2 separate regions of the Homo sapiens genome follow, and region 1 is linked to region 2. The links come from fine-mapping of genetic effects on gene expression. A gene starts in region 2. The other region holds a variant in brackets. All regions are shown on one strand. Distances are from middle to middle. Region 1 overlaps UNC45B (unc-45 myosin chaperone B). Region 2 holds the start of NLE1 (notchless homolog 1).

What was found. PIP is the estimated chance that this variant, and not a neighbour inherited with it, causes the effect.
Region 1: its variant is fine-mapped to the expression of NLE1 in whole blood (INTERVAL, PIP above 0.99). The same link has a PIP of 0.9 or more in blood mononuclear cells.

The regions. Positions count from the first base shown.
Region 1 is chr17:35,165,859-35,176,986 of GRCh38, forward strand. It overlaps UNC45B (unc-45 myosin chaperone B), which reads left to right. Exons shown (of 20, transcript NM_001267052.2): 10 at 2,203-2,503; 11 at 3,979-4,073; 12 at 4,256-4,397; 13 at 5,464-5,604; 14 at 8,384-8,511; 15 at 10,110-10,176. Among named protein-coding and RNA genes, the nearest start is that of SLC35G3, 23 kb to the right of the region's middle. The variant A/C (reference allele first, on the strand shown) is at 5,765.
Region 2 is chr17:35,137,568-35,149,420 of GRCh38, forward strand. It overlaps NLE1 (notchless homolog 1), which reads right to left and starts at 4,736. Exons shown (of 13, transcript NM_018096.5): 1 at 4,691-4,736; 2 at 4,412-4,555; 3 at 2,282-2,499; 4 at 1,668-1,747; 5 at 247-323; 6 at 1-73. The coding sequence starts at 4,708. UNC45B (unc-45 myosin chaperone B) reads left to right here and starts at 10,250. Exons shown (of 20, transcript NM_001267052.2): 1 at 10,250-10,343; 2 at 10,697-10,864; 3 at 11,406-11,442. The coding sequence starts at 10,697. RefSeq lists an enhancer at 4,167-5,044.

The DNA.
Region 1 (11,128 bases), 28 kb after region 2:
AACCCAGGAGGTAGAGGTTGTAGTGAGCCAAGATCGCACCACTGCACTCCAGCCTGGGTGACAGAGCAAGTCTCCATCTCAAAAAGAAAAAAGAAAGGCAAAAAGCTGCTGGCCAGGTGTGGTGGCTCATGCCTGTAATCCTAGCATTTTGGGAGGCCGATGTGGGAGAATTGCCTGAGACCAGGAGTTTGAGACCAACCCAGGCAATGTAGAGAGACCCTCATCTCTAAAAAAAAAAAAAAAAAAAAAAAAATTAAAAATGAGTCAAGTGTGGTGGCACACCCCTGTAGTCTCAGCTACTTGGGAAGCTGAGGTAGGAGGATCACTTGAGCCCAGGAGGTCAAGGCTGCAATGAGCCTTGAATGCACTACTGCACTCCAGCCTGGGCAAGAGCGTGAGACCCCGTCTCAAATAAAATAAAATAATGTGAAAGCTATTCTCAACTCCCTGGATTTGCCAACTCCTTCTCTACCCCACGGCTTCTGCTCACCCTGACTTTGGTTCACTTAGGTCTTTTCAAGGCTTCTGTCTTTCTCTACCTCAGTTTCAACTTTTCCTGCTGACTTCTTGAGTCCCTCATGAGGTCCCCAACTGACTCCCATTACCTGTCATCCAGCTAGTTCTTGTTTGGGCTTGTTGATTGAGGCTCCCTCCTGTCAGCCTGTGGAATGCTGAGAGGAGGGGTCACTGCCTTCATCAAATGGTGCCCCAGCCTGCCCCTAGCAAGAGTGGAATACATCCCGCTTCATCAGGGGCGGGGGCTGTGTGGGGACCCAGTGCCAGCTCAAAGGTCAGACCGCAACTAATTACGAAGGATGCTGGTTCCCTGGGCACTGAGTGGAGAGATGAGGCACAGGACATGGGATGCTCAAGCTGGAGGGGCTGTCAGAGCTTCCAAAGCTGAGTCCTCTTCCCCAGGGGAACTTGCCTGAGATCCTCCAGCAATCAGAGGCAGACATGGGACCAGAGCCCAGGTCTTGGACTCTTGGTGTGGAGTTCTCCTGACCAGTCCACGCTGCCTTCTTGCATTTATACACAGCTGCATTTCCACTGTGCACATCTGCCCTGTTTCCCACAATGCACCAACCTGGGCAGATGAGAAGCATCAGAAGGCATGTCACCTCTGACATTCCCACGCAGAGATTCTCCCCTAGAGTAGATGATAATAGATTCTGAAAGCAAGGCAGAACGTTCCTGGATATCTAGCCCACATGCTCACCAACAGGGGAAGGGACTAAGACCAGATCACCAGAGGGGAGTGACTGGCCCAGGCCATGTCACAGAGAGACACAGTGTGCCGGGCATCACGCTAGGCCTTTTTGTGTTGTTGTCAATGCTGTACTGTCCTCCCAGACACAGCAGCTGCTGGAAAGGCTGTCAGCTGACAGCTCTCAGCTGTTATCTCTCTTTGGGACTTGTCTCACCTGGGGAGAGCTGTTTCACCCTTCCCAGGGAAGCCAGTATGCAAACACTCACACCAGGCTAGTTGAGGTGACTCAGACCTATAATACCAGTGCTTTGGGAGGCCAGGTGGAAAGATCATCTGAGGCCAGGAGTTTGAGATCAGCTTGGGCAACATAGCAAGATCCCATCTCTACAAAAAAATTTAAACAATTGTCTGAGCATGATTGTGTGCACCTGTAGTCTCAACTGCTCAGGAGGCTGAGGTGGGAGGATTGCTTGAGCTTAGGGGTTTGAGGTCACAGTGAGCTATGATGGCACCAGTGCACTCCAGCAACAGAGCAAGACTCAGTCTCAAAAAAAAAAAAAAGAAAGAAAAAGACTCACTCTAACTTGGAACAACTGTGAAGGGTCTTCCAGCTCCAGAACTTCTTGGAGGCTGAGGCTTTGTGATAGCTGCAAAATGCCTCCCTCTGCCCCAGTCCTGCTTCCTTCTCTTCCCAAGAGCTCTCTCTAATAAACTTCCTGCATGTCAATCCCTGAGTCAGAGTGTATTTCCCAGAGGCACACTCTGTGACACAGCTGTTATGTCATTTATCCTCACCACAACTCTGAGAACTAGTAGTACTATCCTCAGTTTACAGGAGCTGAGGCTCAGAGAGGTTCGCTGAATTGCCCAATATCACACAGCACATGAGTGGTGGAGCCAGGATGCAAATCCAAATCCTACTGCCTCCAAATCTCACACTCTTTCCACTCTCTTGGACCAGTTCTCTTGACCACCCTTGTCCTTTGTTTTAGGGGCAAGTTTGACCCCCAGGACATGGACAAGAACTTGAATGCCATCCAGACAGTGTCAGGGATCCTGCAGGGCCCCTTTGACCTGGGCAACCAGCTGCTGGGACTGAAAGGTGTGATGGAGATGATGGTGGCACTATGTGGCTCAGAGCGCGAGACGGACCAGCTGGTGGCCGTGGAGGCCCTCATCCATGCCTCCACGAAGCTCAGCCGCGCCACCTTCATCATCACCAATGGAGTGTCACTGCTCAAACAGATCTACAAGACCACCAAAAATGAGAAGATCAAGATCCGCACACTGGTGGTGAGTGGGCTCGGTACCACCCTCCTACTCAGTACAAGGTGCCATGCCAGGCACCAGGGACACCAAAATGAATGAGTTGAGGCTGCTGTCCTTGAGGAGACCAGGTTCAAGGGGGCACCAGACCCAGCCACAGACCCCTGCAGAACAGGGCAATATCCAGGGGGCTTGTGAGGATGTAGATTCAGAACCGTGAACTCTGCTGCTTAACCCTGAGGACGTTCGTCTCCCTGCTTATGAACAACATGAACACTGAGGAGCTTGTGTCCAGAATGCATTTTCAGAGCAAATTCTGAAGAGTCACTTTCCTTAATCAGTTTCTATAAGGTATTTTTTTTCCACTTTCATTTTACTTTTTGTTTTTTTGAGATGGAGTCTCACTCTGTCACCTAGGCTGGAGTGTAGCAGCGAAATCTCAGCTCACTGCAACCTCCGCCTCCCAGGTTCAGGTGACTCTTGTGCCTCAGCCCCCAGAGTAGCTGGAATTACAGACGTGTGCCACCACACTCAGCTAATTTTTGTATTTTTAATAGAGACGGGGTTTCGCCATGTTGGCCAGGCTGGTCCTGAACTCCTGACCTCAGGTGATCCACCCCCCTGGGCCTCCCAAAGTGCTGGGATTACAGGCGTGAGCCACTGTGCCTGGCCTGAAATTATTATTATTATTATTTTTTCAGACAGAGTCTCCCTCTGTAGCCCAGGCTGGAGTCCAGTGGCATGATATTGGCTCACTGCAACCCCCATGATCTCGGCTTACTGCAACCACCGCCTCCTGGGTTCAAACGATTCTCCTGCCTCAGCCTCCCAAGTAGCTGGGATTACAGATGCCTGCCACCACACCCTGCTAATTTTTGTATTTTTAGTAGAGATGGGGTTTTACCACGTTGGCCAGGCTGGTCTCAAACTCCTGGCCTAACTGATCCACCCGCCTCGGCCTTCCAAAGTGCTGGGAGGATTACAGGCGTGAGCCACCGCACCCAGCATCAATTTTTTAAAAACAAATTCTAGCTTCTGACAAAAGTGAATTTTCTCTTATGAAACCGCCCCCCTAAGAAAAGTCCAATTTTCTCTGGGTAAAATTTTGCACATCTGAATCTGTTATCCAGAAGATAGGATTTCTCTGTCAGTTTCTGTGCCGTAACAAGGTTCCCCATTGAAGCTTCAGATATGGTTAACTTGGTCTTGCTGGTTTTTCAAAATGGCAGGCACAATACATCTGTGGGGTCAAAATGGTGGGGGAAGGGGGCAGGTCAAGAATTTGCAACTTTATGGGCCTCTACCCTAACCCAGAGCATCAGGGAAAGTATCTCAGCAGAGGTGACACCTGAGCTGAGTTTTACAGTCTGCACAGAGGTGGATCCAAGCAAAGAAAGAGGGGCGAAGTGTTCTGGCCATAGAAACCTGTTTGAGCAAGGCTTCATCCCCAAGCCTTGGTGTCTCTGATCCTGCATGTGTCTGCTGTCTCCTCTCCTCCTCAGGGACTCTGTAAGCTCGGCTCTGCAGGTGGCACAGACTACGGTCTCAGGCAGTTTGCGGAAGGGTCGACAGAAAAACTGGCCAAACAGTGTCGCAAGTAAGGGGGCTGTGTTTCCCAGGCCCTCCATCTCCTCATGCGCCTTCCGGGCAAGAGTCTCTGGGGTGTGCTCTAGTGGAGTGTGAAAGGGACCTCACCCCTGGTTCACCACCCTGAAATCGCTTCACCCTCTTGACCTAGCCCTGGGCCCCTTCCCATGTGTGCTCCCTCCTCACTTCCAGGTGGCTGTGCAATATGTCCATAGACACTCGGACCCGACGCTGGGCAGTGGAGGGCCTGGCCTACCTCACGCTGGACGCTGATGTGAAGGACGACTTTGTCCAGGACGTCCCTGCCCTGCAGGCCATGTTTGAGCTGGCCAAGGCAGGTGTCGGGGAGTCTGGCCCGACCACAAACCTCAGGAAAGGTCTGCTGGGTCCAGACCCACAGGGAATGGATCCCAGTCTTCCTCCTGGCTCTACTCCTTACCCCTGTATAAACATGATTGGTTATTTCCCCCTTTCTGGCCCTCATTTTACCTGATTGTAAAATGGACTCCCGACTCCCAATGCCTTCCAGAGATGGGAAGATGCACAGGAGGGCAGTTTGTTTTCCTGGGGCCCTCAGGAGGTGAGGTCTTGAAGGACCTGAGGCAGCTAAAAAAAAAAAAAAAAAAAAAAAAAGCAGGGCATCGTAGCACGTGCCTGTAATTCCAGCACTTCAGGAGGCTGAGGCGGGCGGATGGCTTGAGCTCTGGGGTTCAGGACCAGCCTAGGCAACATGGTGAAACCCCAACTCTACAAAAAATACAAAAATTAGCTGGGCGTGGTGGCACATACCTGTAATCCCAGCTACTCGGGAGGCTGAGGTGGGAGGATTGCTTGAGCCTTGGGAGATCGAGGCTGCAGTGAGCTAGAATTCCAGCTCTGCACTCCAGCCTGGGTGACAGAGAGAGACCTTGCCTCAAGAAAATAAATAAATAAAAGAGGCTGTGCCTGGCCTTTCTGGGAACCTGCCCTCCCTCCCAGGCCCCCCCAGACTCCTTTCCTCATCTGCTGGGCCAACTCCCTGGCCCTTTTCTACCAGTAAATGGAGGAAGCATGGGAGAGATTTTCACCAGGACCGGAAAATGTCCAGCTCCCACCCCATCTCCAGTTGGATGGGAAAGTGTTAGACTGGGCTTGTGGAAGAGGCGCAAAGCGAGGATCTTTGTGGGACAGCTCCTATTCATACTGTCAGAGCTACTGTGGAGGGTGCAGGAGACACTGCTGCCTGCCTTTATGGGGAGAACCGTTCCTCTCCTGCGCTGCTGTCTTTCCTCAGAATGGGCCCTACCAGCTGCACTCCTCCGACACCAACCTGCCGGCCACGTGAGGGAGCATCCTGGAAGCAGAGGTTTGTCCTAAAGTTTCCTTTCTGCTTTCCCTCTCCCCAACCCTGTGCCTTCCAGACCAGTGACAAGACCATCCTGTACTCGGTGGCCACCACCCTGGTGAACTGCACCAACAGCTACGATGTCAAGGAGGTCATCCCAGAGCTTGTCCAGCTCGCCAAGTTCTCCAAGCAGCATGTGCCCGAGGAACACCCCAAGGTAGGGTCAGGCGCGACCCGGGAGGGGTCTGGTCTGTGCCACTAGGCCTCCAAAGGAGGCGGAACGGCAAAAGGAGTGGTGTCAGGAGTGGCACGGTGTGTGTTTGGGTGGTTGGGGGTAAGATACACATACATTGAATATGTTAATGGTAAACTTTCCC[A/C]CCAGATGGTGCTCATGCTTTTTCTTTGTTTTTATTTTCTATTTTGAAAAAAATCCAACAATTTATAGTCTGAGAAAACAAACAGAGCCATGATGGACACTTTGCAATTTGTGTTGTTGATTTTATGGATAAAAGACAGTTTTATTTCATGTCTCCAACAGATAACAATTTGATTTTCTCAGATTTCTGGATTTTGTGACATGGGTGCTAAGTAGGAATCATGAGAGGAGAGGCATGGTCAGCATTAGCCCAGAAGTCACAGATCCCCTGGAACCCTCTCCAACAATTCCCTGCACATGAAGATATGATTTGTGTGTGATTTGTTTAAGAATATATGCAAGATATTGCCAGCCAATAAAATCATTTAGATTTTTTTAATGATCAAAGTAATATAATCATGCTGCAAAACGAGTTAAAATGTGGGGAAAAGAAAATAACCACTCATGATTACGTCATCTCCACATGACTGCTGTTGGCATTTTGATGTTATGTTACCTACCAGAGGCTTTTTTTCTATGTATCTTTTTTCCTTTCACAGTTATAATTAGAATATATTTATCATTTTGTGCCCAATTTTGGAAAAATATGTTTTTCACATTGCCATCTCATTCTCTGAATCATTTTTATTTTATTTATTTATTTTTTGAGACAGAGTCTTGCTCTGTCACCCAGGCTGGAGTGCAGTGGTGAGATCTCGGCTCAATGCAACCTCTGCCTCCCAGGTTCAAGTGATTCTCCTGCCTCAGTCTCTCAAGTAGCTGGAATTCCAGGCATGCACCACCATGCCCGGCTAATTTTGTGTTTTCAGTAGAAACAGGGTTTCACCATATTGGTCAGGCTGGTCTCAAACTCCTGACCTCAAGTGACCCACCCACCTCGGCCTCCTAAAGCGTTGGGAATCCAGGCATGAGCCACCACACCTGGCCTCTGAATCATTTTTGAAAGCTGCATGATGTTTCATCCAGGCAAGGGTGCAGAGCATGTGCTGTGGCTGTGAAGTTCCAGTGTGGCTTCCAGGGCTTGCCCAGGGTTGTCAGCCCCTTCCCCACCACTCCTCACTCTGAGGATTATCTGTAGGGACTCTTTAACCCTGGGTTGACTTTGGGTTTCCAGCAAACCCAATCCATTGTTATGGCGGCTTCATCCACTGTGTCCTTTCCTGCCTATACCCTCTCTCTACCTCCACTCCCACCTCAGCCTTCTCCAAGAAAAACAATATACGCATCATTTAGTCTTTTGGATTATCCGTCTTTTATTTCATTCCTCTGTGAATGAGAGAATCTTTGGGACTGGTTTTCTACGGTATCAGCTCCTCAGGCTCTGTCTTGGGATTAGGTAAGGCAAGGAAGAAGAGAGGAGAGACAATCACACACGACAGCAAGGCGTGCTGTATACCCCTTGGCAGTTGCTTGGGAAGAGGGAATCTGGAGAAGTGTCTTAGTTTCCTATTGTTTCTAGAACACATTGCCACACGCACTGTGGCCTAAAACGCAATTTTTATACTTTTTTTTTTTTTTTTTTTGAGACTGAGTCTCCCTCTGTCGCCCAGGCGGAGTGCAGTGGTGCAATCTTGGCTCACTGCAACCTCCGCCTCTTGGGCTCAAGCAATTCTCCTGCTTCAGCCTCCTGAGTAGCTGGGATTATAGACACGCTCCACCATGCCCAGCTAATTTTTGTATTTTTAGTAGAGACGGGGTTTCGCCATGTTGCCCAGGCTGGTCTCGAACTCCTGGGCTCAAGTGGTCCACCCACCTCAGCCTCCCAAAGTGCTGGAATTACAGGCGGGAGCCACCACGCCTGGCCCGGTTTTAAAAATCTTATAGTTCTGGAGGTCAAGAGTCCTAAAATGAGTCTCACTCGGCTAAAGTCAAGGTGTTAGCAGGGCTGGTTTCTTTGGGAGGCTCTAAGGGAGAATCATTTTGTTGCCTTTTTCAGCTTCTAGAGGCCACCTACATGCTTTGGCTGGTGACCTTGAACCACTCTGACCTCACTTCCATTCCATTGTTACATCTCCTAGTACTAACTCTGATCTTCCTGCCTCCCTCTTATAAAGATCCTGGTGATTATATTGGGCCCACACAGAAATCTAGGCTTACCCCCTCATCTCAAAATCCTTAACTTAATCGTGTCTGCAAAATCCCTTTTGCCATGTAAGGTCCCACGTTCACAGGTTCCAGAGATTAGGCCATGGATTTTTTTTTTTTTTTTTATACAGAGTCTCGCTGTGTCGCCCAGGCTGGAGTGCAGTGGTGCGATCTCGGCTCACTGCAAGCTCTGCCCCCGGGTTCATGCCATTCTCCTGCCTCAGCCTCCTGAGCAGCTGGGACTACAGGTGCCCGCCACCACGCCTGGCTCATTTTTTGTATTTTCAGTAGAGACAGGGTTTTACCGTGTTAGCCAGGATGGTCTTGATCTCCTAACCTCGTGGTCCGCCCGCCTCAGCCTCCCAAAGTGCTGGGATTACAGGCATGAGCCACTGTGCCTGGCCAGGCCATGGACATCTTTGGAGGCCATTATTCAACCAACCCCAAGAATTCAGAAATGCACCATCTTTGGTTCCAATACCGATTGGCCTGGCACCCAGGACCCTCCCACATTGCCATCTTTTCATCTCCTCAGGACAAGAAGGACTTTATAGACATGCGGGTGAAGCGGCTTCTGAAGGCGGGTGTCATCTCTGCCCTGGCTTGCATGGTGAAAGCAGATAGTGCCATCCTCACTGACCAGACCAAGGAGCTGCTGGCCAGGTGGGGCTGCAGTGGGCCAAGGCTTGGAACTAGGGCTGGGGGCCGAGGGTCCTGGAGTGCAGCACACTGGGCAGGGAGATAGAAATGGTGGGGGCCTAAATGAGGAGATAAACTATTGGGAAAGCCTGGAGAAAGGTCTGAGGGGATCAGCTTTGAAAAGTGACATGGGACCAGGGGTGGTGGCTCATGCCTGTAATCCCAGGGCTTTGGGAGGCCCAGGTGGGAGGATTGCTTGAGCCCAGGAATTCAAGACTAGCTTGGGAAACATATTGAGACCCCATCTGTACAAAAAAATTTTAAATTAGCCTGGCACGGTGGTGTGCACCTGTACTGCCAGCTACTTGGGAGGCTGAGGCAGGAGGATCACTTAAGCCCAGGAATTCAGGGCTGCAGTGAATGATGATGGTGCTACTGCACTCCAGCCTGGGTAACAGAGCAAGATCCTGTCTCTATACAAAAGAGAAATAAAGAAAGAGAGAAAGAGAGAGAGAGAGAGAAAGGAAGGGATGGCGGAAGGAAAAAAGGAAGGAGGGAAGGGAAAAGAAGAAGGGAGGAAGGAGAAAGAAAGAAAAAGAAAGAAAGAAAAAGAAAGAGAAAGAAAGAGGAAGAAAGGAGGGAGGGAAGGAAGGAGGGAAGAAAGAAAGGAGGGAAGGAAGGAGAGAGAGGAAAGAAGGAAAGAAAGAAAGGAAAGAAGAAAGAAAGAAAGAAAGAAAGAAAGAGAAAGAAAGAAAAAAGAAAAGAAAGAAAGGGAAAGGAAAGGAAGGAAGGAAGGAGAAGGAAAGAAAGAGGGAAAGAAGGAAAGGAAGGAAGAGAAGTGGTATGTTGGGCAGGTCATCACAGGTGGAAGTTTGTATCAGGAGAAAGGAGGCCACTGTTCCTTCTTGTTACCTTGTTCTCAGAGATTAAAGGCACAGTCTGTGTGCAGCCTGGCCAGGGAGGCAGGCAAGATCACAGCTACAGTCCGATGCAATGGATGCCATGATGTGGGAAGCATAAAGGGCTGATTGGAGCACAAGCAGTGTTCCCCAACCAGCCAGACTGGAGGGGAGGTGGGTGGGCAGCTGGTAAGGCCTCCTGGGGGATGTGACAACTCAAGCTCTGAAGGAAGCAAAGGAGCCACCTAAATGCAGGAGAGGGAAGGTTCCAGGCAGAGAGAATAGCATCTGCAAAGACACTGAGGATGGAGAGAGAATGAGTGAATTTGGGGTTCTCCTGCAATATGTCTGGGGCAGGGAATCCATAGGAAGAGCTGGTGCTGGATGAGACAAAAGAGGAAGCCAGAGCCAGATCACGGAGGACCTGGGGCACATCCATTGAAGTTGAAAAGCTTCTCCTGGGTGGTTGCATCCCTAAATAGTGATAGTGGGGAGTGCTCTTTGCAGCCTCACTTGGCCTCACTTCCTTCCCAGCCAATTATTCCCATGATGTCATCTTCCCAAAGTGGTTAATTCTGGGGCACAGGCACACAAGTGGCACTTTCCATAGTCTCCCTTTTCATCCCAGGGTTTCACTGGCTCCGACTGGCTGGCCTGCTGCTGCTGCTGCCTGGGAAGGTGTGCTGGTGTATTAACTGTTCTCCTTTCTTCTCGGTCCCACAGGGTATTCCTGGCACTGTGTGACAACCCAAAGGACCGAGGCACCATTGTGGCTCAAGGTGGTGGCAAGGTAACTGGGCAGGTGCCTTCCTAGAAGGTGCCTTTGTGCATGCTCTTTGCCTAGCGCAAGAATTATGTACCCTCTGCCCCAACTCGACCTCCTGGAATACGGCCACCAGTTATCTGCGCTGTCTGTGCTCATAGCCCCAAGCCAATTTCTGCTTGACTTTATGCTATGATGGTATGTACTTTGGAATCCCATCTATCCTCCTTGCTGTTGGAAGGAAGCACCGTGCAAAGACAGACCCTGGACTTTGATGTAGAAGACTTGTAGTTGAGTTCTTGCTCTTCCCATTTCTGACTGCATAACCTCAGGCAAAATACTTAATCTCCCAGCCACAGCTTCTTCATCTGTAAAATAGGGGGAAAATCACACTTTCAATTTGCAGACTGTCACAAGAATTAGAGAAAATATAGAAAGTATTGATTCATGGTAGGTGCTCAATAGATGTCTGATGTTAAGATTGGGTTTGGCTGCAACTCCGTCTCTATTAAAAATACAAAAATTAGCTGGGCCTGGTGGCGTGCACCTGTAATCTCAGCTACTCAGGAACCTGAGGCAGGAGACTTGCTTGAACCCAGGAGGAGGAGGTTGCAATGAGCCGAGATCATGCCATTGCAGTCCAGCCTGGGCAGCAAGAGCGAAACTCTGTCTCAAAAAAACAAAACAAAACAAACAAACAAAAGGATTGAGTTTGGCTTGGGCAGAAAGTAAAAAATTTGTTGATTGAATTATTTATTTTTCCAAAAGCTGAAGGAATATTTAGGTGGGTGGGAGGAAGTGGGGTAAAGACCTGAATGTGCACTGGGAATCAAGAGGAGTGAATATGTGATTAAGGATTTAATTGTTTTCCATGATGTGCAAGGGCTGATTATACGGCAGAATTTTCCTGGACCTCCCATGGGACAGACAGACAGCACCTGGAGCAGGAGGATAGGCGAGAAGCCTCTGGATGTCTGTG
Region 2 (11,853 bases):
CTGTGATCCACTTGCTGTGGCCAGCGAGGGTCCTGCCCACCTGCTTCCCTGTGCTTGGGTCCCAGAGGAGAATCTGAAGGACAGAAGCTCACTGAATAATCCTCCCCAACAGGTCTCTGGCTCCACCAAAATCCCTGCCTACCACTTCCCACCCAACCCTCCCCAAAGACTCCTGAACCTGATTCTGAACTGTCTCCTAGGAAGGCCCCCTTGAGTCTCTGCCTAGTTACCCTGAGAACTACCTACCTGGCCATTCTTGCAGCCTGAGGCCAGCTTCCTGCCATCTGGAGACCAGGATATACTAAGGACCCAGTGTCTGTGTCCTAAGAAAGCAGAGGAGGGAGAAATAAGGGACTACATCTGTCTTTATCCCAAGTGCCCAGCAGTGCCTGTCAGGTGCCAGGTACTCCTTAACCATTTGAATAAATGAATGATTGAACAAAAGGAGCGATGAGGCTTTCTGGGGATGGATAGAATGCACCCCAAGTGTTAGAGCTCTGCATCTTGCTGCATGGATAACACCATCACTCTCTAATGACTCCTTATGTGACACATGCTATGAAGTGTTTTTGTACATGTCATCCCTTGTTATTTCTCACAAGAGCTCTAAGCTATGGAGCAAAGCAAGAATTATCATCCCCATTTTCCAGATGAGAAAATTGAAGCTTAGAAAGGGAACATGCCCTACACACACAAGGTCACTTAACTAATCTGTGGTATAGCAGTGGTTCTTCAAGTGTGGTCGTCAGAGCAGCAGCATCAGCATCTCCTGGGAACTTGTTAGAAATGCAGATTCCCAGGCCCTACCCCAGGCCCAATAGAACTAAACCTCTGGGGGTGGGGCCCAGCAATCTGTATTTTTTTCTCTCTTCTCTTTTCTCTCTCTCTCTTTCTTTCATGGAGTCACACTCCATCACCCAGGCTGGAGTGCAGTGGTGCCATCTCGGCTCACTGCAACCTCCGCCTCCTAGATTCGAGCAATTCTTCTGCCTCAGCCTCCCCAGTGGCTGGGATTACAAGCACACGCCACCATGCCCGGCTAATTTTTGTAGTTTTAGTAGAGATGGGGTTTCACTGTGTTGGCGAGGCTGGTCTCAAACTCCTGACCTCAAGTGATCTGCCTGCCTTGGCCTCCCGAAGTGCTGGGATTACAGGTGTGGGCCACCACGCCTGGCCAGCAATCTGCATTTTAACAAGCCCCTGAGGCGGGGCAATTCTGATTTGTGCTCAAGTTTGAAAACCACTGTGGCAGAGGCAGGATTTAAACCAGGTTCTCCTTGGTAGCAGTCAGTCAGCCTCTCACCATGTCCCATATTGACTCCTTGGTGCAGTTTCTGCTTGTGTCTAAGTGGCTGGCTGGGCTCAAGGACATGGTCTCTACCTAGGAACAGACAGCCGCCAACTGGATATTAAGGGGTTGTAATCTGCAAAGTGAGACCCTCATCTGTATGAAAACAAAAAACGAGCCAGGTGTGATGGCAAGTGCCTGTCATCCCAGCTACTCTGGAGGCTGAAGTAGGGGGACTGCTTGAACCCAGGAGTTCAAGGCTTGAGCCCAGGAGTTCAAGTGAGCTGTGACTGCACCACTGTACTCCATCCTGGTCAACAGAGCAAGACCTTGTCTCAAAAAAAAAGAAGACCCCCTAAATGGCTAATTGCATACTGACCCTTGCATGTGAAATGTGGTGTCTCTGTGCTGAGATCCCAGAAGCGCACGGTGGTGTCTCCAGAGCCACTGGCCAGGTACCTGGGGAAGAAGAGAGGATGCTTGACACTGCACATGTGCATTTGTGCCACCTATTCAATCACTTTCTGTGAATAGAATATGGAACTGGACTCTTTCCTCGCCCCTGGAAGGGAGAAAGACAATACTGATGCTGTCCTCTGGGAGAATACATCAGGAGGCCATTTCTTTCCTCTCCACAGCTATAACCAGCTTTTGAAGCTTCTCATTACCTTTCTAAGTTTGAGAGAAGCAACTAATCCCAGTTTCACAGATGAAAAATTAACTCGGAAAGGTTAAGTGATTTATACAAGTCACACAGCTCAGATCTTGAAAAATCAAGTCTAGGAGAGGTTTGTCCAAGGCAGGGGTCCTTAAGCAGCCTTTGGGGACCATGCCCTACTGAGGAAGTCCCTTAATTGCAAGCTGAGTCCAGAGCTTGGGTCTATGGTAGGCAGCCCTGAGGCCCCATCAATTATAACTCTGGGAGACCCTCCCCAAACCAGGCAAAGACTGCACCCCCACATACCCCCTCCATGAGTCTGCAGCTGTCCTTACTTTCCCGTAGGGCTGAAGGCCACAGAAATGACTGCCTCACTGTGACCCTCCAAGGAGCTGGTGCAGCGAGTCACAGCCCGGACTCTGAAGATAGCCTGTGGCTGGTAGATGATGTCTAGGACCTTCTCTGTCTCCACTGCCTGGGACTCCAACGTCTTCCCCAGTGAGGAGACGATCTCAGCATCGTGGACAAAGAAAGCCAGTGGCAGGGGATCCTCCTGAAGGACAATGGTAAAGGACAAACCCGCAACAATGGATGTGCAGGGGCACCCTCTGCCAGGGATGCTCCCCACTGAGCTGTGGGAGGTGAAGCTTCTTCTTTTCAGCCATCGTGCTAGGGATACCCCCATCATTGCCCATTGAGCAAGACCTTTTATTTATTTATTTATTTATTTTTGAGACAAGAGTCTCGCTCTGTCACCCAGGCTGGAGTGCAGTGGAGCAATCTCTGCTCACTGCAACCTCCGCGTCCTGGGTTCAAGAGATTCTCCTGCCTCAGCCTCCCGAGTAGCTGGGATTACAGGCACCCATCACCACGCCTGGCTAAGTTTTATATTTTTAGTAGATACGGGGTTTCGCCACATTGGCCAGGCTGGTCTCAAGCTCCTGACCTCAGGTGATCCACCTGCCTCGGCCTCCCAAAGTGCTGGGATTACAGGCGTGAGCCACTGTGCCCAGCCTAGCAAGACCTTTTAAGTCACTGAACAGCAGTTGCAGGACACTTACACAGCACTTGGAAATTCTTTTTTCTTTTTTTTTTGAGATGGAGTCTCGTTCTGTTACTCAGGCTGGAGTGCAGTGGTGAGATCTCAGCTCACTGCAACCTCTGCCTCCTGGGTTCAAGCAATTCTCCTGCTTCAGCCTCCCGAGGAGCTGGGACTACAGGCGCCTGCCACCACGCCTGGCTAATTTTTGTATTTTCAGTAGAGACTGTTTTCGCCATATTGGCTAAGCTGGTCTCGAACTCCTGACCTCTAGTGATCTGCCCACCTCAGCCTCCCAAAGTACTGGGATTACAGGCATAAGCCACTGCACCCGGCCTGAAATTCTTTATCTGCATCTCATAACAACCGTGGGAAGTAGATACTAATATTCCCACTGACAGTTTTCAAAAGCAGAGGCTCAGAACAACTAAGTAATTAGTTCAATGTCCTATTGCCAATGATTAATTCAGGTTCTTTACGTCCAAGATAGGATTAGCATATAGCATTATGCAGTGTTTCCCAAACTACCACACTACACTATATTTGTGTAAAAAGCTCCCAAAACGCCTGTTAAAAAATGTAGACTTTCTGCTTCATCCCAGAGTTTGGTTTAGTAAGGCTGGGATGGGGTCCAGGAACTGCAATTTTAAGGACCTCCCCTGTCCCCAGGGCAGCTCTTCAGTAAACACACTGGCTTAAAGGTTAAAAGCAAAGGCCGGGTGCGGTGGCTCACGCCAGTAATCCCCAGCACTTTGGAGGCCAAGGCGGGAGGATCACGAGGTCAAGAGATCGAGACCATCCTGGCCAACGTGGTGAAACCCAGTCCCCACTAAAAATACAAAAATTAGCTGGGTGTGGTGGCGCGCGCCTGTAGTCCCAGCTACTCGGGAGGCTGAGGCAGGAGAATCGCTTGAACCTGGGAGGCAGAGATTGCAGTGAGCAGAGATCACGCCACTACACTCCAGCTTGCCAGCCTGGCGACAAAGTGAGACTCCGTCTCAAAAAAAAAAAAAAAAAAGGTAAATAAATAAATAAATAAAAGCATGGGTATTCGGATAGTTTTGGGTTCCAATTCCAAATCTGCTACCTACTACATAGCATCGTGCAAAATACTGAGTCCCTCCGGGCCACGCTGTAAAATGGGGATATTAACGTGTCCCAGACTGGGGGACTGTGACAAAGAATCAATGAAATACAGCATCCGGTGCGTTCAAAGCTAGGCCCCTCTCCGCAGGTGGACCCCTTTGGTTGGCGTGTAAAGCGCTATGCCACTGATTCCATCTCTGACATAGGTGGGAGCTCACGCCAGGTGGGTCACCACAGTCCGTTAGCGGGGGACCATGAACCGCAGACCCTCGGTAATATGATTCCCCCACCGCATCCGCCCGGGGGTGGAGATGCGAGGCCGCCCTGGCCAGCCACTTACCTGGGCCAGTAGCGCGTTGCACACGAGCTGCAGCCTGTCCGGGGTGATGTCCACGGGCACGTCGAACGGGGAACCCAGCAGCTGCCCGCCCTCATCCTGGAACTGCACTAGCAACCGCTGCACATCGCGCGCCACCGCCTCGTCCTGCGCGAGCAAGTGGGGCGGGAGTCAGTCTGGTCGCCCGCCCAGAAGGGCCCCACTTCGCCTCTCTCAGGCCTCAGGGACCCGGGCCCTAGCGCCCCGCGGCGACGCCCCCCGCCCCCATCCACGCACACCCACCGGCACTGCTGCCGCCATCCTGCGTCCCCACGTGGAGGAGAAAGAGCCCGGCAGACAGAGCGCCGTCTCCGTGGTCGGGCGGGGTCGCCGCCGGCCACATCGCCCTCTGCTGTTGGGGAGGAGAAGCGTCCCGCTGCGCACGGCCTCAGGGATTAGAAATGGGCTTACCTGGTGCTCCTCCCGCCCCTCAACAGCCTTCACATTTATTTTTCGCCAGGGTCTTAGAGGACACAGTAAACTTTTGACTCTTCACAACAGGGATTCTTGCCCCATTTTAATTTAATTTCATTTTGAGACAGAGTTTCACTCCGTCGCCCAGACTGGAGGGCAGTGGTGCCACCACGGCTCACTGCAGTCTCGAACTTTCTGGCACAGCGATCCTCCCACCTCAGCCTCAGAGTAGCCTGGACTACAGGCACATGACACCCTGCCCGGTTATTTTTTTCTCATTTTTTGTAGAGACGAGGTCTCACTATGTTGCCCAGGCTGGTCTCAAACTCCTGAACTCAAGCAGCAAGTCCCCCACTCCCCAGCCTCAGTGTCCCAAAGTGCTGGGATTACAGGTGTGAGCCACCACGCCTAGCCTAGAAATTAGTATCCTTTTAAAAATGGATCAAGTCAAGGCTGGGCGTGGTGGCTGACACCTGTAATCCCAGCGCTTTGGAAGGCCCAGGCGAGCAGATCACTTGAGTCCAGGAGTTCGAGACCAGCCTGGCCAACATGGTGAAACCAGGTCTCTACTAAAAATACAAAAAAATTAACCAGCCGTGGTGGCATGCGCCTGTGGTCATAGCTACTGGAGAGGCTGAGGTGGTAGATTCTCTTGAACCTGGGAGGCAGAGGTTGCAGTGAGCCGAGCTCTCACCACTGCACTCCAGCCTGGATGACAGAGCAAGACTCTGTCTCAATAAATAAATAAATAAATAAATAAATAAATAAATAAATAAATAAATAAAATGGATCAACTCAATAATACTCGAGTACAAAAGCAAATCATTTCTACAATCATCAATGCTGTAAAGCAATAATAGTGATAATGACATCAACAAGTCAGGAATTGTTCTAAGTGCTTTCCCACATAACTCATTTAATTCTTACAACCCTTTTCTCCCCATATTACTGAGGAACTGAAGCAGACAGCAATGAACTTGAGCTCTTTTGCCTGAAACGAAGGATCTCCCTTGCCAACTCTCCTCTCTCTCCCTCCACTGCTCAGGCAGTCTCAAGCTCTGCCAAGTCATCCTCATGAACACAGCTTGAATCTGCTCTCCCCATCTCCACTGCCTCACTCTGGTCAGAGTCACCATCATCACCTGCCTGGACCGCTACAACAGCCTCCCGATGAGCCCCCCCATTTCCATTCCTGCCTCTTTCTACCCATTCTCCACGATGCAGCCAGGGTTATCTTTTCAGACCAAAAATCTGGCCTGCTGCTCTTCACCCTCAAACCCTGCGACGGCTCCCTTACATGCAGGAAAAAAAGAACACTCCTTATAATGGTCAATTCAGCCTTGCTATGTCCAGCCACCCCTCTCTTTAGGTTAAATCTTGCTGGCTTTTTCTGAGTTCTTACAAGGCATGGCTCTTCCTGCATCAGTGATTTTGCCCATGCAGTTTTTTCTGTCTGGAACTGTTATGGAGTGAATTGTGCCCTTCCCCTAATTCAAGCTTGTCCAACCCCTGGGCCACAGGCTGCATGCAGCCCAGGATGGCTTTGAATGCAGCCCAACACAAATTCGTAAGCTTTCTTAAAACATTATGAGATTTTCTTTCGATTTTTTTTTTCAGCTCATCAGCTATCATTAGTGTATTTTATGTGTAGCCCAAGGCAATTCTTTTTCCACTGTGGCCCAGAGAAGCCAAAAGATTGGACGCCTCTGCCCTAATTTATATATTGAAGCCCTAGCTCTGAATGTGGCTGTATTTGGAGATAGCATATATTATTATTATTGTTTTTTTTTTTTTTTTTTAGAGACAGGGTCTCACTCTGTTGCCCAGACTAGAGTGTAGTAGTGTGATCATAGCTCACACAGCTTCAAACTCCCAGGCTCAAGTGCTCTTCTTACCTTAGTGTTCTGAGTAGCTAGGACAACAGGTGTGTGCCACTATACCTGACACTCGGCTAACTTTTAAAAATTTTTGTAGAGACAAGGCTGTCACTCTGTTGCCTAAGCTGGTCTCGAACTCTTGGCCTCAAATGATCTTCCTGTCTTAGGCCTTCCAAAGTGCTGGGATTACAGGTGTAAGCCACCATGCCTGGCCTGGAGATGGGCCCTGAAAGGACATAGGAAGGGTTAATAAGTGAGTTTGTATGGGTAGGACACTAATCAGATAGAACTGGTGCCCTTGTGAAATGAGGAGACTCCAGAGTACTCTCTCTCTGTCTCTCCCCGCCCCCCGCACTGCCTCCCTGAGCACACACAAAGATGAGGCCATAGTAGGACACAGTGAGAAGGTGGCTGTTTGCATCCAGGAAGAGAGGCCTCACCAGAAACCAACCCTCATGGCACCTTGACCTTGGATTTCTCTACTCCAGAGCTGTGAGAAAATAAATTTCTGTTGTTGAAGCCTCCCTGTCTGTGCTATTTTGTTATGGTAGCCAGAGCCAACTAATACAGGAATAGTTCCTCATTCTTCAGGTCTTGCCTTGAATATTTATTCATTCATCCAATAAATGTATTGAGTGCCTACTCTCTGCCAGACGTTGTCGGAGTTCTATGTGTATCAACTCATTTATCACTTACGCAGGGAAACCTTTGAAATGATGTCATATGATGTCATATTTCCCTGTTGTATGTTTTCAAAACATCCTGGTATTCCTCACATTTAGAAATCACAGATCCAGCTGGCACAGTGGCTCACACCTGTAATCTCAGCACTTTGGGAGGCCGAGGTGGGAGTATCACTTGAGCCCAGGAGTTTGAGACCAGACTGGGCAACATGGTGAGATCATGTCTCTACAAAAAAAATAGCCAGGTGGCATGCACCTATAGTCCCAGCTACTCAGGAGGCTGAGATGGGTGAATTGCTTGAACCTGGGAGGTCAAGGCTGCAGTCAGCCGTGATCATGCCACTGCTTTCCACTTGTGACAGCGAGACCCTGTCTCAATTAAAAAAAAAACCAAAACAAACAAACGAACAAAAAAAAGAAATCACAGAATCACAGATCCATGGAATTATTTCATTCATTCATTCATTCAACAAATAGCATTGAGCACCTTCTTTTTATTTTTTCTTCTTTTTTGAGATGGAATCTTGCTCTGTCACCAAAGCTGGAGTGCAGTGGCATGATCTTGGCTCACTGCAACCTCTGCCTCTGGGGTTCAAGTGATTCTCCTGCCTCAGACTCCTTAGTAGCTGGGATTACAGGCACCCGCCACCATGCCCGGCTAACTTTTGTGTTTTTAGCAGAGATGGAGTTTCGCCATGTTGGCCAGGCTGGTCTGGAACTCCTGACCTCAGGTGATCCGCCTGCCTTGGCCTCCCAAAGTGCTGGGATTACAGGTGTCAGCCACTGTGCCCCACACCATTACAAACGCTTGGAATATGTGAGGGAACAACATAGACACAAATCCTTGTCCTCACCAGTGTTCTATGCTTCACAGTTCCTCACACATAATAAATGTTTAAGAAATGTGGGCCAGGCGCGGTGGCTCACGCCTGTAATCCCAGCACTTTGAGAGGCCTAGGCAGGTGGATCACGAGGTCAGGGGTTCAAGATCAGCCTGGCCAACATGGTGAAACTCCATCTCTACTAAAAATACAGAAATTAGCCAGGCATGGTGGTGGATGTCTGTAATCCCAGCTACTCATGAGGCTGAGGCAGGAGAATCTCTTGAACCCAGAAGGTGGAGGTTGCAGTGAGCCGAGATCGTGCCACTGCACTCCAGCCTGGGCAACAGAGCAAGACTCTGTCTCAAACAACAACAACAACAACAACAAAAAGATGTTTAAGAAATGCTTGTGGAATGAATTACTGAATCAGCATTTGAATATAAGATCCCTTGGACCTAAAGTCACAGAACCGCAGGTCTCTGCCAATGTCAGGATCCTTTATCCTATTACCTCATTGCTGCAGAGAGCTTGCCCCACAAAAGGGCCCAGGGCTTGTGATAACATGAAGGCAGGGAATTCATCCATCTATTCATTCATTTATTTGCTCATTCAACAAACATGTGTTAGGGCTGGGCTTTGTGTCCAGCAGGGCGCTACAACTTGTCCAAGGTCATATAGCTGTGTGTCCAAGGTCACAGGTCTGCGAGTAGAATCTAGTATGAATGATTCCACCTGGGATTTTCTTCAGTGTCTTTCTCAGCTCTGGCCAGATAAGTTTGAAGATATGTGTGGGGTGGAGGGGAGAGGGATGAGAGGTGAGTGGAGGAAATCATCATCATGAAGACACCATTCATTCATTCATTCATTCATCCATCCATTCATTCCATTCAGGAAACACACTTCGGACACTGAATGTGCCAGAACCTGTGCAGGAAGGGGGTTGGGGGACAAGCTATATGGGATGCTGTCTTTGCCTTCCAGGAGGAAGCTCACAGCCCAGGCTTGAGGGCACTGAAATGCAGAAGAGTTCTGGGTCCAACTGGGGACAACGTCATAAATTTGCTTCAGGAACTCCCAGTTAGCTAAGGAGAAACATTCCTGCCTCAGGAGAGACCCCTCTGCAATGGTGAATACATAGTTCTTGTCCCAGGAAGACCCCCTTCTGAGGAGGGAGCCTCAGTGTGTCCCAGGATAGTTTCCAGTCGGGTGGGGAGGACCCTTGGTCTCGGGGGAATTCCCAGTCTGACCCAGCCCTTGCCCTAAGAGATCTCAGCCTGATGGGGGATACACAAAGCCCACTCTCTGGGAGCTAACAGTCAGATGGGAGAGGTAGGCTGAATAGATCCACTCTATACACAGGGGGAGGAACAGGAGACCGCATGTGGACCGAAACTAACGAACCACTCACTCACACTAAACTGAGTTAGCAAGTCCTGTTGGTCTTTCTGAAAAGCAAAGACATTTTGAACAGGTGAAAGCAGGGTGGGTTGAGGTGTTGCGCAGAAGTGGAAAAGGGAAGGAACTTTCTTCCCCTGTTCCTTCCCCGCTCCCTCCAGAAAGGTATTTCTGGAACTCTCCAGTTGGTCTGGGATCTGGGCAACTGCTGTGTGTCCCAGTCTGTCAGCCCCTCAGCTGTCACTCTGCTCCCAAAAATAGCAATGGTTGAGGGGAGGGAGAGGAAGCTGTTTATCTGGGATAGATGTGGAGAGGTGCATTAGAGCTGTGCCCAGGGAGGGAGTCTGCTGGGGGGTTCCTGTCCCTTCTGGATCTTTCTGTCACTCTTTGGAATGTTAGTGCCTAAGCCCCCCACCAGGATAACCCAGAGTGGGGTGCTTGGGCGGAGGCTGGTCAGCACCTCCACGTGGTCATGACTGACCAGTCTGGGGAGGGGGAGGGCCCTGAGTATCAGTGACAGACTCCAGGGGCACCTGCCCCTGTGGCCAAATATGGTCCAGAGCCACTGGCTGAGGCAAGAAAATCTCTTGGGTGGGGGCTGGGAGGGGCAGACTGAGGCTGGCTGGCTGGAGGTTGACACAGGAGTGCTCAGGGGAGCAGCATCACAAGAGGGCAGATCGAAAGCATCGTCCTTGCTGAAAAAGTGAGCATGGGCCTGGGGTGTGCCCTGGACTGGGGAGGGAGACGGCAAACTTCTAAGACCTGCAATGAGAGTTCAGGCCTTTGGCACAAACTAAGCAGCTTCGCCTGCTCAGGCTGGGAGGGACAGAGAGTGAGGCACAGGGACTCTCAACTTGGGCCAAGCTCTGAGCAAATGCTATAATGTCCTCATGGGGCAATAGATTTGGGGGTTCTGGGGGTGGGTCCCTTCCAGGCAGAATCCCCACCATCCTCTCTGGTGTGAGGGGACCCTGGAGCTCCGGACCTCAGGCCAGGAGCCCAGCCCTGGGTCTGCAGTGAGGGGCTGACCAGACAGAGCTTCTCCTGTCCCAGCAGATGGCAGAGGTGGAAGCGGTACAGCTGAAGGAGGAAGGAAACCGGCATTTCCAGCTCCAGGACTACAAGGCCGCCACAAATAGCTACAGCCAGGCCCTGAAGCTGACCAAGGACAAGGCCCTGCTGGCCACGCTTTATCGGAACCGGGCAGCCTGTGGCCTGAAAACGGTCTGGGGCAGGGCAGGGCACAGGGTGGGAGTGAGGCAGAGGGGCTTTGGGGCTGAGTGGCAGCCCCTTCACCCTGATAGAAATTGCCCTTCATCCCAGCCGACTCTCCTGGATGCCTGGGGTTGGAGAAGGGTGCCTCCAACCCCCTGACCCATGCCCCGGAAAGACAGAAATTCATCCAGAGCAGAATCAGCCCAATGCCAGGTGCTTTCATGTGTTATTCATGGCATCTTACTAATGGCCCGTGAGATAGCTGTTGTTGTCCTCCCCCTATCGCAGGTAAGAAACTCGGGATCCAGAGGGCTTCATTCATTAACTTGCCCAAGCTCTCCCAAGTAGTAGCAGAGCCGAGATTCAAACCTGGGTTTGCCTGATGTCAAAGCCTGTCCTCTTTGCCATGCCTGTGAGGAGCATGCCCTGGGCCTCTGACAGCCTGCAGCTCCCCCAGGAAACCCTCTCCCCACACTGTGGGGACACTCTCTGGCCATCTCTGCATTGGGCCCACATTAACCGAGTCTCCTTCTCCTTCCCCTTTCCTCAGGAGAGCTACGTCCAGGCAGCTTCAGATGCCTCCAGAGGTGAGCCCCTCCCACCTCCAAGCTTGCCCTGTCACATTCTCCTCTGCATGGCCTGGGTTTTAATCTAGTTACCATTTTGGGGGAAGAAACAGTGAGTATGGAGTGACTTCAGAAGGGAGAGAACAAGCTGGAGAAGGGACTGGAAACATATCCTGTGAAGAGCAGTTGAGGGAAGCTGCAATATTTAGCCCAGAAAAGGCAACTCCCAGGTGGGTCAGAGAGCTGCCTTCAAATTCCTAAAAGGCTGTCACAAGGAAGAAGGATTGGATTTCATCTCAAGGGTTCCAGGGCTGGGCAATGTTACAGGGAACACATTTCAGGCAGGGAGAGGGAAATGTTTTCTGATTAAGCTGCCTGGCTGTCTTTTGTTGTTGTTGTTGTTTGTTTTGTTTTGTTTTTTGGGTTTTGTTT